Linked DNA regions of Homo sapiens. The protein of the gene in region 2 interacts with the protein of the main gene of each other region in a pairwise test. Each region holds a gene or a part of one and is shown on either strand. Other genes may lie near its edges.

Evidence for each region. Proteins that work in one complex are often made in the same cells at the same time.
Region 1: the proteins of TXNDC11 (region 2) and ORC5 interact in a two-hybrid assay, tested with the Homo sapiens proteins (one large-scale study listed by BioGRID and IntAct).

The regions. Positions count from the first base shown.
Region 1 is NC_000007.14:104,200,975-104,205,924, reverse strand, and holds part of ORC5 (origin recognition complex subunit 5), read left to right. Parts: intron 1-1,690; coding exon 1,691-1,783; intron 1,784-4,950. UniProt on the Homo sapiens protein: Component of the origin recognition complex (ORC) that binds origins of replication. DNA-binding is ATP-dependent. The specific DNA sequences that define origins of replication have not been identified yet.
Region 2 is NC_000016.10:11,686,332-11,691,385, reverse strand, and holds part of TXNDC11 (thioredoxin domain-containing protein 11), read left to right. Parts: coding exon 1-96; intron 97-2,940; coding exon 2,941-3,083; intron 3,084-3,419; coding exon 3,420-3,529; intron 3,530-5,054. UniProt on the Homo sapiens protein: May act as a redox regulator involved in DUOX proteins folding. The interaction with DUOX1 and DUOX2 suggest that it belongs to a multiprotein complex constituting the thyroid H(2)O(2) generating system.

The DNA.
Region 1 (4,950 bases), on a different chromosome or scaffold from region 2:
GCAGTCCGCCCACCTCAGCCTCCGAGTAGCTGGGACCACAGGTGTTTGCCTCCAAGCCTGGCTATTTTTGTGTTTTTTGTAGAGATGGGGTTTCACTGTATTTCCCAGGCGAACTCCTGAACTCAAGTGATCTGCCTGCCTTGGCCTCCCAAAGTGTTGGGATGACAGGCTTGAGCCACTGCATCCTGCTGAGACAGAATTTTTGGGCCAGTTAATTTATGATTGTTACATATAAACTTCAGAAAAAGATTCATGTATTACATTACCTATTCATTTCAAGTAAATTTTTAGTCTATTTTTAGCAGTTGAGCTGCTTTTGCCATAGCTGTATGCCATTTAGAAAGTCTTTTTCCTGCGTAAATCTGAGTTCCTGATTTGTCTTGTAAAAGGAAATGTTTAACTTAGTGACTTGAATGTAATAAATGTTTGTGACTGTTGCTGTAATCGATGATAATTAATAGAGACTTAACTTTCTGATAGAAATTGCATAATCCCATTTTCTTGTAATTATTTAAAAAAATGTATTATTAAAAAATAGGCCAGGCACAGTGGCTCACACCTGTAATCCCAGCACTTTGGGAGGCTGAGGCAGGCAGATCACAAGGTCAGGAGTTTGAGACCAGCCTGACCAACATGGTGAAACTCCGTCTTAACTAAAAATACAAAAATTAGCTGGGTGTGGTGGCACACACCTGTAATCCCAGCTACTCAGGAGGCTGAGGCAGGAGAATCGCTTAAACCCGGGAGGCAGAGGTTGAAGTGAGCCGAGGTCACGCCATTGCACTCCAGCCTGGGTGACAGGGTGAGACTCCATCTCAAAAAAAAAAAAAAAAAAAAAGAGTATTATTAAAAAATCAAGTTTTCCCGTAATTATTTTAAAAATGTAGACTATAATTTCCTCCAAAGTAGATAATGTCTTTTACTGTTATTTGTTCTCTTCAGTACCTCATGGTTTTCAGCATTTAGTAGGTATCTAATGAAAGCGTTCATTTAAGGAATGAAGTACAAGTATTTGTAGTATTAACTAGACCAGAGAGACCTTTGACAATATTTACTTTTCTCTAAGCTGCTAACCTAATGTACTGCAAGAGGATCTTGCACATATGTATTTTAAAATAAATGCTATGCAGATTTTATTAGTGTTTTATGTGATCTAATGTATGCATTTATGCCAGCATCAGTGAGTATGCATAGTTCAGAAGTAGTCTATAAGTTTTCCTAAGAATGAGGACCCTTGAAATTCCTTTTAATCTTTTGATTATATGTACTTTATTTCATAGCATTAAAATGTATAGTGAAGTTGTGGCATCGCAGGAGATAAGAGTCTTTAAGAAGGAGTAATATAAAAATGGAGTATGAACAAAATTATCCTTGAAAAATCTCTTAAATCTGCTATGAAGTTGAAAATACTAGTTTGTATATGTAAACCTGTACGATAATAAAAATATAAATATATAGTACATAATAAAATATGCCAAATATGTTACATACATTTTAATTTCATAACAAAGAAAGTGCTTAGAGTTGAATTCAAGTAGGTTCAAAGTGTGTTGATGCATCCACAATATGCTCATTGTTAGGAATTTGGATTGAATATTTCACTTTTCCACGTACAACTTTCTCACAAGTTGATAAGTGTTTATTTTCTATTTTGTATGTGCAGCCTCATATTTGTCTTTTCTCTCGTTAGAGACATCATTTCAGCTTTCCATCCATTTTTATTTATGGACATACTGCTAGTGGAAAGACCTATGTAACACAAACGTTGTTGAAAACTTTAGAGGTAAGAATAAAAATATTAAATATTTCTTTGCCATTTTTAGTGTATAATATTGGTACTGATAATTGTGAATCTCCACAAATGCAAAATTGAACATACCACCTTTACATTACTCTCCTTCCCATATTATCTTTCTCCATGAATGGTCTACTGTCATTGACACAGTTGTCCAAACTTGCACTTTCTTAACTCTTTCCTCATCTTCCCTCATTTAGTAAATCACATCAATAAACTTAGTCTGTTGCTTCACATTGTTAAAATCATGTCTCCATCTACCTTTAATCCTAGCCATTGCTGCTAGGATTTTCATTTACCATTGTTTTTTTTCCATGTATTTCTGTAAGCCTCTTATTTGCAATCTTCACCCAGCAGCTAGGCCATGCAAATCTTAATATTTTCAGGACAGTGTTCAAGTAATTCGCCCATTGTATAAGACCTTTCATGAGCTGAATTTATCTTTCATAACACAGTGGTTAAGAGTTTGGGCTGTGGAGTCTGGCAGACTCATGTTCCTTTTTGGATTCACCAGTTAGTGCTTTCTCCATCTGCAAAGTTGGCTCATAGTGACAACATTTGGGATTAAGAGAATTAAATGTTAGCACATGGAAAGTGCTTTCTGCAGTACATAGTGCGTAGTAAGCACTCAATAAAGGTTAGCTGCTATTATTGATGAGTATTGCCATACTCCCTTTCATATCCTAAACCAGAGATGGGCAGTCTTTTTCTTAAGGGCCGGATAACTAACATTTTGTGCTTGTGGACCACGTAGTTTCTGTCTCACCTGCTTGACTCTACTGTATTGTGAAAGCAGCCATGGGCATTCTCTATGTGAATGGGCATGACTGTGTTTCAAAGCAACAGTATGTACAAAAACAGGTGGCTAGCCCACAGGCTTTGGCTTGCTAACCCCGTCCTCCTCTAGCACTGAGGATGCACGTTTAGGATAGCATACTGAACTGTGTACAGTTCCTGCTGTCTTACTTTCAAGCCATGGCACATGTTGCTCCCCTACTTGGAATGGCTTTCCTGTACTCGCTCTTCCTGTTGCTTGGCAAATGCTTATTTATTTTGCCAGGTTTTCTTCTACTTATACTCTACAAGGTCTTTCCTGATCCTCTAGGCTGTATCAGATGCCCCCCTGTTTTGCAACCTTAGCACCCTGTGCTTAATTCTGTCATAATATTTAGCCTTCTCAGCTATGATTTTGTGTTTATGTTTCCCTGGCTTTAGATTGTGAGTTTCTTGAAATTATCCCCAGCACCAAGCACATTACTTGGCACGTATTAACTTGTGGATTTCAGCTTATTAAGTTGTAGATTTCAGCTTTTGATCTCAAAGATCAGCTGTGCATTTTAAAAAACACATATGCCTGGGCTATATACTGGACTTCAGAATCTGAGTGTACAAGGTCTTGGTCCAGGCATTTGCATTTCAGAACCCCCTGAATGAAGTGCCCCCAAAATATATGTTGAATAAAAGCAATAAAACCCAGTAAGGAAGTTTCATATTTAAGGACTGTATTCCATTTTTTATCACACTGTAGTTTCTGCTGTTACTTAATCAGTGTAATATATGATTATTGTTACTACTTCTGATACAGGGACTCAGACAGGCACTTAGAATATGCTGCCTTTAAAAGTCATGGATGGTACAAATGCCGTAAGCAAGACACTATTCATAACAGAGATGTTGTGGACTTTTGTTCTTAAAGGACAGTAAAGGAGTGAGAGAGAAGTGAGTTAGCAAATGCTGGTGAAACTGTCCCCAAGTAAGTTTAATGTGGCTTTAGTGACACTGTTATTCAGAGAAAGAAAAGCCTCCTTATTGGATAAAGTTTATAAAATCACTAAAAATAGTTACCAGTTCCATTATTTGTGCCAAGTGCCACAAGTTATCTTCCTCAGAATGAATCTGCTTTTGTGATCTTATTTTGAGGATAGACTGTATTGGTGAGCAAGTCTCGTTTGTGACCTTATTACTTCTGGAGTTAACTCATGTTGATATTTTGATAGTTTTTTAAATGAAGGGCTAGTTTTTTTTGTTTTGTTTTGTTTTTAAATGGGGTCTTGCTCTATTGCCCAGGTTGGAGTGCAGTGTTATGATCATAGCTCATTGCAGCCATGAATTCCTGGGCTCAAGTGATACTTCCACCTCAGCCTCCCAAGTAGCTGGGACTATAGATGTGCACCACCAGGCCTGTCTAATTTTTTTTACTTTTTTAAAGACAGAGTCTCACTGTGTTTCCCAGGCTGATCTTGAACTCCAGGGGTCAAATGATCCTCCCACCCATCCTAAAGCACTGGGATTACAGGCAGGAGCCATATGCCTAGCAAAGAGCTAGTGCTTACAGTCCTCGTAGGAGGATTGCTATGGTTTCTAACTCTTAAAATTCTTTTTTTTTTTGACTTAGTAAACGTTTATTCAAGGATATTATATTAAAGTTATAAGTGTGAAATTCCTATTAAGATTTTTAACATTCAAATATGCTTAGATTTCTTTTCTTTTTTTTTTTTTTTTAATAGTGACAGGGTCTCGCTATGTTGCCCAGGCTGGTCTGGAACTCCTGACCCAAAGCCTTGGGATTACAGACATGATCCACCATGCCTGGCTGATTTCTTTATAAGAATTCTTTATAGGAAAATACAAATTTGCTTTGAATTTCCATAAGAAAGAAATGGCAAGCTGAAAGAAATAATTGAAGTGAGTTTAATGAAGGGACAGTTTTATAATGGAAATTTTATGGGAATCACTAAGGGATGATGGTACACCAGGGCCTTTACCACCTCCAGGCCTGAAGGGACCATAGAAAGGAGCTGTTATTGGAACCAAACAAGAGGTGTAGCCTTAGAAGAGGGGCTGTCCAACTTGATCTTTGGTAGAAGAGTATCCACTGCCAAGCTAGGGCCACTGAGGGGTCATGGTGGGAGTCAAGGAAATCAATATCCAAACTTCTCTCCCACCATTCTCCCTTAGTCTCCTGCTGGTTCTTTCCATTGGCTTCTCCATCCAGAGACAGAAAATAAGAGAGTCCAGGTGATGTAATTCTGTAGCTGTCAGGCTCTTGGGGCATGGGGTGGGTTTGGTGGGATATAGATTTAGAAAGGCAAATGGAGACTATCCAGCACAGCCATTATTGTGTTTGTGTGTTTTCTTCTTTACTTACAGTGTTT
Region 2 (5,054 bases):
CCACTCAGGTGAAAGAATTTGCGGCAATTGTTGACGTGAAAGAAGAATCTCATTACATCTTGGATCCAAAGCAAGCACTGATGAAGCTCACCCTAGGTACTGCAGGCAGTTTATTTCCCCAAGCATTGTACATTTTGCTTGACTTCATATGGGTAAATTTTATTGATGGCTCTCATTACATTTAGTTGTGGGGTGATGTCACCTTCGTAGCTCATTTTAAGTCTTTAGACCACCATCAGTCATAATTTTCAAAGAAGCTAATTTTGTCTATTAAATGGAACAGAAACTTCCTCACTCTGAATTTTGGATAAGTTTGTCATTTAGCCCATGGTGGGGGTAAGAGTCCCACTTTCTAAATTGGCGATTTCTGTCACATGTCTAAGGTAGAACCAGCTGCAGGCAGTGGGGACTTGGGGACTAGAACAGGCAGGGAGGTGGAGAGCTATTCTGGTGGGATGTCCTAGGGGCTGATGAAAGTGAGCCTTGACAGCAGCTTTGTTCTAAAGGAGCTTAAAGAGAAAGCAGTGGCCGGGCGCAGTGGCTCACGCCTGTAATCCCAGCACTTTGGGAGGCCGAGGCGGGTGGATCACGAGGTCAGGAGATCGAGACTATCCTGGCTAATGTGGTGAAACCCCGTCTCTACTAAAAATACAAAAAAAAAAAAAATTAGCCGGGCGCGTTGGCGGGCGCCTGTAGTCCCAGCTACTCGGGAGGCTGAGGCAGGAGAATGTCGTGAACCTGGGAGGCAGAGCTTGCAGTGAGCAGAGATCGCGCCCCTGCACTCCAGCCTGGGCGACAGAGCAAGACTCCGTCTCCAAAAAAAGAGAGCAGTGAAGAAGGAAGTAGAGCCGCCTTGCCTCCCTTTTTGTCTCATAGGCTTAAATGTCTAAGGATCAAGGCCACCAGACCTAATTTGTTCTGCTGCTGTTTCATAATGTACTGAGTAATATTGCTGGGACCTGGGGTACCTACACTGTAACAAGTGTAAAGTGCAAATAAATAAGTGTCAGTCGCAAACCAGCAAAACCCACTTTTTGAGGAGTAAGGCTCCATGATGAGAAAGCACCCAGAGCTTGCCCCTGGGACTTGGCAGCAACATTGGGCTGACCCACCCTGGCCTGTTCCCAGGAATTTGCTGATGCCCTTGACTACACACAATGAAGTGAGAATTCAAAAGCCACGTTAGTTCAGCCTCATTGGAAACGGGAGGGAGGGTCAGTGTATGCCGAATGGAGAAAGGAGGAATTTGGTAGGGAAGGAAACCTTTCATTTCAAGTTTTAAAGTATGAACTCAACAGTAGACTCAGAGCTTCTACATATGAGTCTTTTTAGCCATCCTCTTTCAAATCTAGGTGAAGCTTGTTTCTTACATTAGACACATTTGTGAAAAGGCTTTATGTAAATATTGATTTTTCTATATCAAGTTACATATTATAAATCCAAGAGTTCCTCACTGTGTAAAAGAACCCTGTGACCAGTCACTTTTTGAAGGGCATAAATCTGTCGATATTATAGATTACTCCCAATTCATGTTATCTAAAGTCATTTTGATGTGTTGAGCTTTCTTAAAATGAAACAAGCATTTTTTTTTTAAATGGGAAAGAGACTCCAGAGAAATGGGGTCAGTGTTCCTACAAGCATGTATTTTTGAGGTAGTCTGTATTAGATTTTCCTGAATTCCATTCAGTAATGCTCAAGTGTTTAATGACCTCATAATGTGTTCACTTTGAATTTAAGGGTAATTGAAAGAAGCCTTCTTTAGATTTCTTTCCATCTTCTGTATCTTCTCTGAAATGTTTAGCCTAGCTGTTCTTTGTCCTGCAGTTAGTGACAGAATTCTTAGGGAGCTTGTAAAAAACACCTACTGTGTGTCATTGTTGGTTTAGAGACTTAACTCATAAATCAGCTGTCTCTAGGCTAGTTTCAGAATTTAGGCTTTATTCAGATTAGGAAATAATTCTTGGTTTCATGTTTCAAAAACATAGCCAACTAAGTGTTTCTCAGATGCTGATCATGAATTCTCTTTAGTATTCACATGACATTCTTCACTTCCTCTTCCATTCTGCACGCTGCATTGCCCATTGCACCTCAAAATGGAGGGAGTTAGAAGAAAGAAAAAGAACTGAAACTTTAGCTGAGTGCAATGGTGGACGCCTGTAGTCCCAGCTACTCTGGAGGCTGAGGTAGGAGGATCGCTTGAGCCCAGGAGTTTAAGGCTACAGTGAGCTATGATTGCAGCACTGTACTCCAGCCTGGGCAACAGAGTGAGACCCTGTCTCTTTAAAAAAAAAAAAAAAAGTGAAATTCAAATTAGTATTGTTTCAGATGAAGCAAAGGACTCTGAAGATGGCAGAATTTGTGGTAAAACTGTTGGTTCAAATCAGGTTTTTGATTATTATGGGTTTTATGTATTTTTCCACTACATATAATTTTTTCTTAACCTTTAAAAAAAGAAACTTAAAGAACCTTAATAAAGGAAACAAAAAACTGTAGCTCCTTGTCCTCAAATTAATGAGCATTTAAACACATTCCACACTACTGTAGCTTGTGCAGTTGTCACATTTGTGGTTAAGCTTAAAGGTCTTAGTATTATAGGGTGAAATTTCTTGAAAAGATGGTGGCTTGTTGATGATTTATACAGTCTCACTTGGTGTCTATTTGTGGACCAGTCCTTTTAAAAAAAGAATAGTCTATGAATATTAGAGCATCTAACATTGCATAGTGTTTTGTTATCCACATTACTGTCTGCTGAGTTAATACTACCAGAGCTAAACCTGATGCCACCCGGGCAGCTTTGTTTGGGGTTTTGCTGATAGGTGAAATGTTAAAAATGTGAGCCTATGAAGTCATTTGAGTTTTTAAAATGTGGAGTTTAAAAGTAGGCCAGCTATTCTCTTTGTATCTAGAGGAGAGTTGATCTCATTTTCTCTTTATTTTTAGAGTCTTTTATTCAAAACTTCAGCGTTCTCTATAGTCCCTTGAAAAGGCATCTCATTGGAAGTGGCTCTGCCCAGTTCCCGTCTCAGCATTTAATCACTGAAGTGACAACTGATACCTTTTGGGAAGTAGTCCTTCAAAAACAGGTATGGAGTCATGAGAGGCAAAAGTTAAGCCATCTGTCCCTCTTAAAATAATTTCCAAACTACAGTTGTTGGGGTGAGCAGCTGTTTTTGATGTATAGAAGAGTAACCACGTGATGGCCCAATTATGGACCGTGAATGAATTACATGTGGTTTTTAAATTTCAGAAAAGTGCTCCAGAAAGCACAGTATTGGAAAGACCTAAAGATGAAAATTTTCACTGTAATATTTGCATAGGTAGCATTTTTCGGGTGCTTGCTGGATTCTAAGCAATGAGGAAAGAAATGAAGAAGAGCCCATTTCCCGGTGCAAGTAACATCTGTCTTCCCTTTCCCACAGGACGTTCTCCTGCTCTATTACGCTCCGTGGTGCGGCTTCTGTCCATCCCTCAATCACATCTTCATCCAGCTAGCTCGGAACCTGCCCATGGACACATTCACTGTGGCAAGGTAAGCAGGCCTCTTCTGCAGCGCTTTGGGCTGTATGCCCATTTTCACTCTTATTTGCAGCTTAGCCATATGGTGTGTGAGGGTCTGCCCATTTTCCATTAACCTTTGGTAGGACTTGGCTGAATTTAATTGTCAGGTTGAAGCCATGAGCAAAGCCTCTTTGAAACTGAACTTTTCCTCATGAATTCTGAGTGTTCCTTCCATGATGTTGATGTTTAGCCCTGACTAGATTCGTAGGTGGCTGAGTGCAGTTCTGTGGGGAGAGCACTGACCTGGTTGCCAGGATGGCCCCGTGGAATACCATGGGACAGTTGCCCCAGGCAATGCCAGTGGGTCCTGGGATCCCAAGCAGATCTCTCCACCAGCCCTGGTTTATCTCATTTGTGAAATTAAAAGGAAAGACCAATAGATATCCACATTCTGGTATTGTGATTCCATGGGTACTGTATGTGCGCTTTTGAGTAAACAAAATTTTTAAAAATATTTTTTGGGAAAAGAAGGCTCAAATACAGAGTCTTTAGATGGGGTAGTAAGCAGTTTTGGGTGAGGAAAACTGTTCACATTTAACCCCCCACCTCCCCCAAAACCCTACAGATAGATAAGAGTTAAATATAAAAAAATCAAAACAAAAAATAGGATTTGCTGATTCCTCTGGGAGATGGAAACTTTCCAAAGTGGAAGCAGTTGGAAAAATAAAGAGAGAAAAATGGACAGATTCCACTAGAAATACGTGCAGTGAAAACAGGGAAAGCAGACAAAAAGGGGGACCATTAATATATTTTCCAGTGTCTCTGTGTCACCTGTTATATGCACTGTAAGTAATAATTAGAATCAAATCTGAGGAGTTACTATGTTGGGAGAGTTTTTGATATACATATTACCTGACTGAGTCCTTGCGACGCTTAGTGAAGGCACTCTAGTTAAAAAAAGAAAGTGCTATTTGTGTTGAGGAGGAAACTGAGACATAGAAAGATTCGACAAGTTGCCCAGAGTTTCAAGCTGCAAATGAGGGGCCAGGATTAAATCAGGCATTCATACTCCAGCCTCCCCGGAAATTAAAATGGTTTAGAAGATGGCTGAGACCGATTCCATTCTGAACAAAGGATGTGAGCAGGTTTTTCTTTTAAGAGGAGAGAGTAAATAAACAAGTGGGGAAATTATAACCTAATAAATGTAAATTAAAACAGTAACAAAGTATCATTTAACATATTAAAGTAATCAGTGGTTTTAAGTGACAGAATCTTGTGTTGATAAAATAAAATGGAAACTGCAGTCAGATGTATCTAATGGAATGAGTACATTGCCATAACTCTTTTGGAAAGCATTTTGGCAACATTTACAAGAAATCAACAAAAACAGTTAACACATTTTTGACCCAGTTAATTTTACTTTGGAGAAGTAATGGAATAGGAATTCCGAAGAAGCATGAGCTCATCATTATAGCATTGTTTACATCCACCAGGAGATGAATGTTTAAGTAAATTATGGCTGGGCATTTAATGGAATTTTTATCCTTCAACAGTGC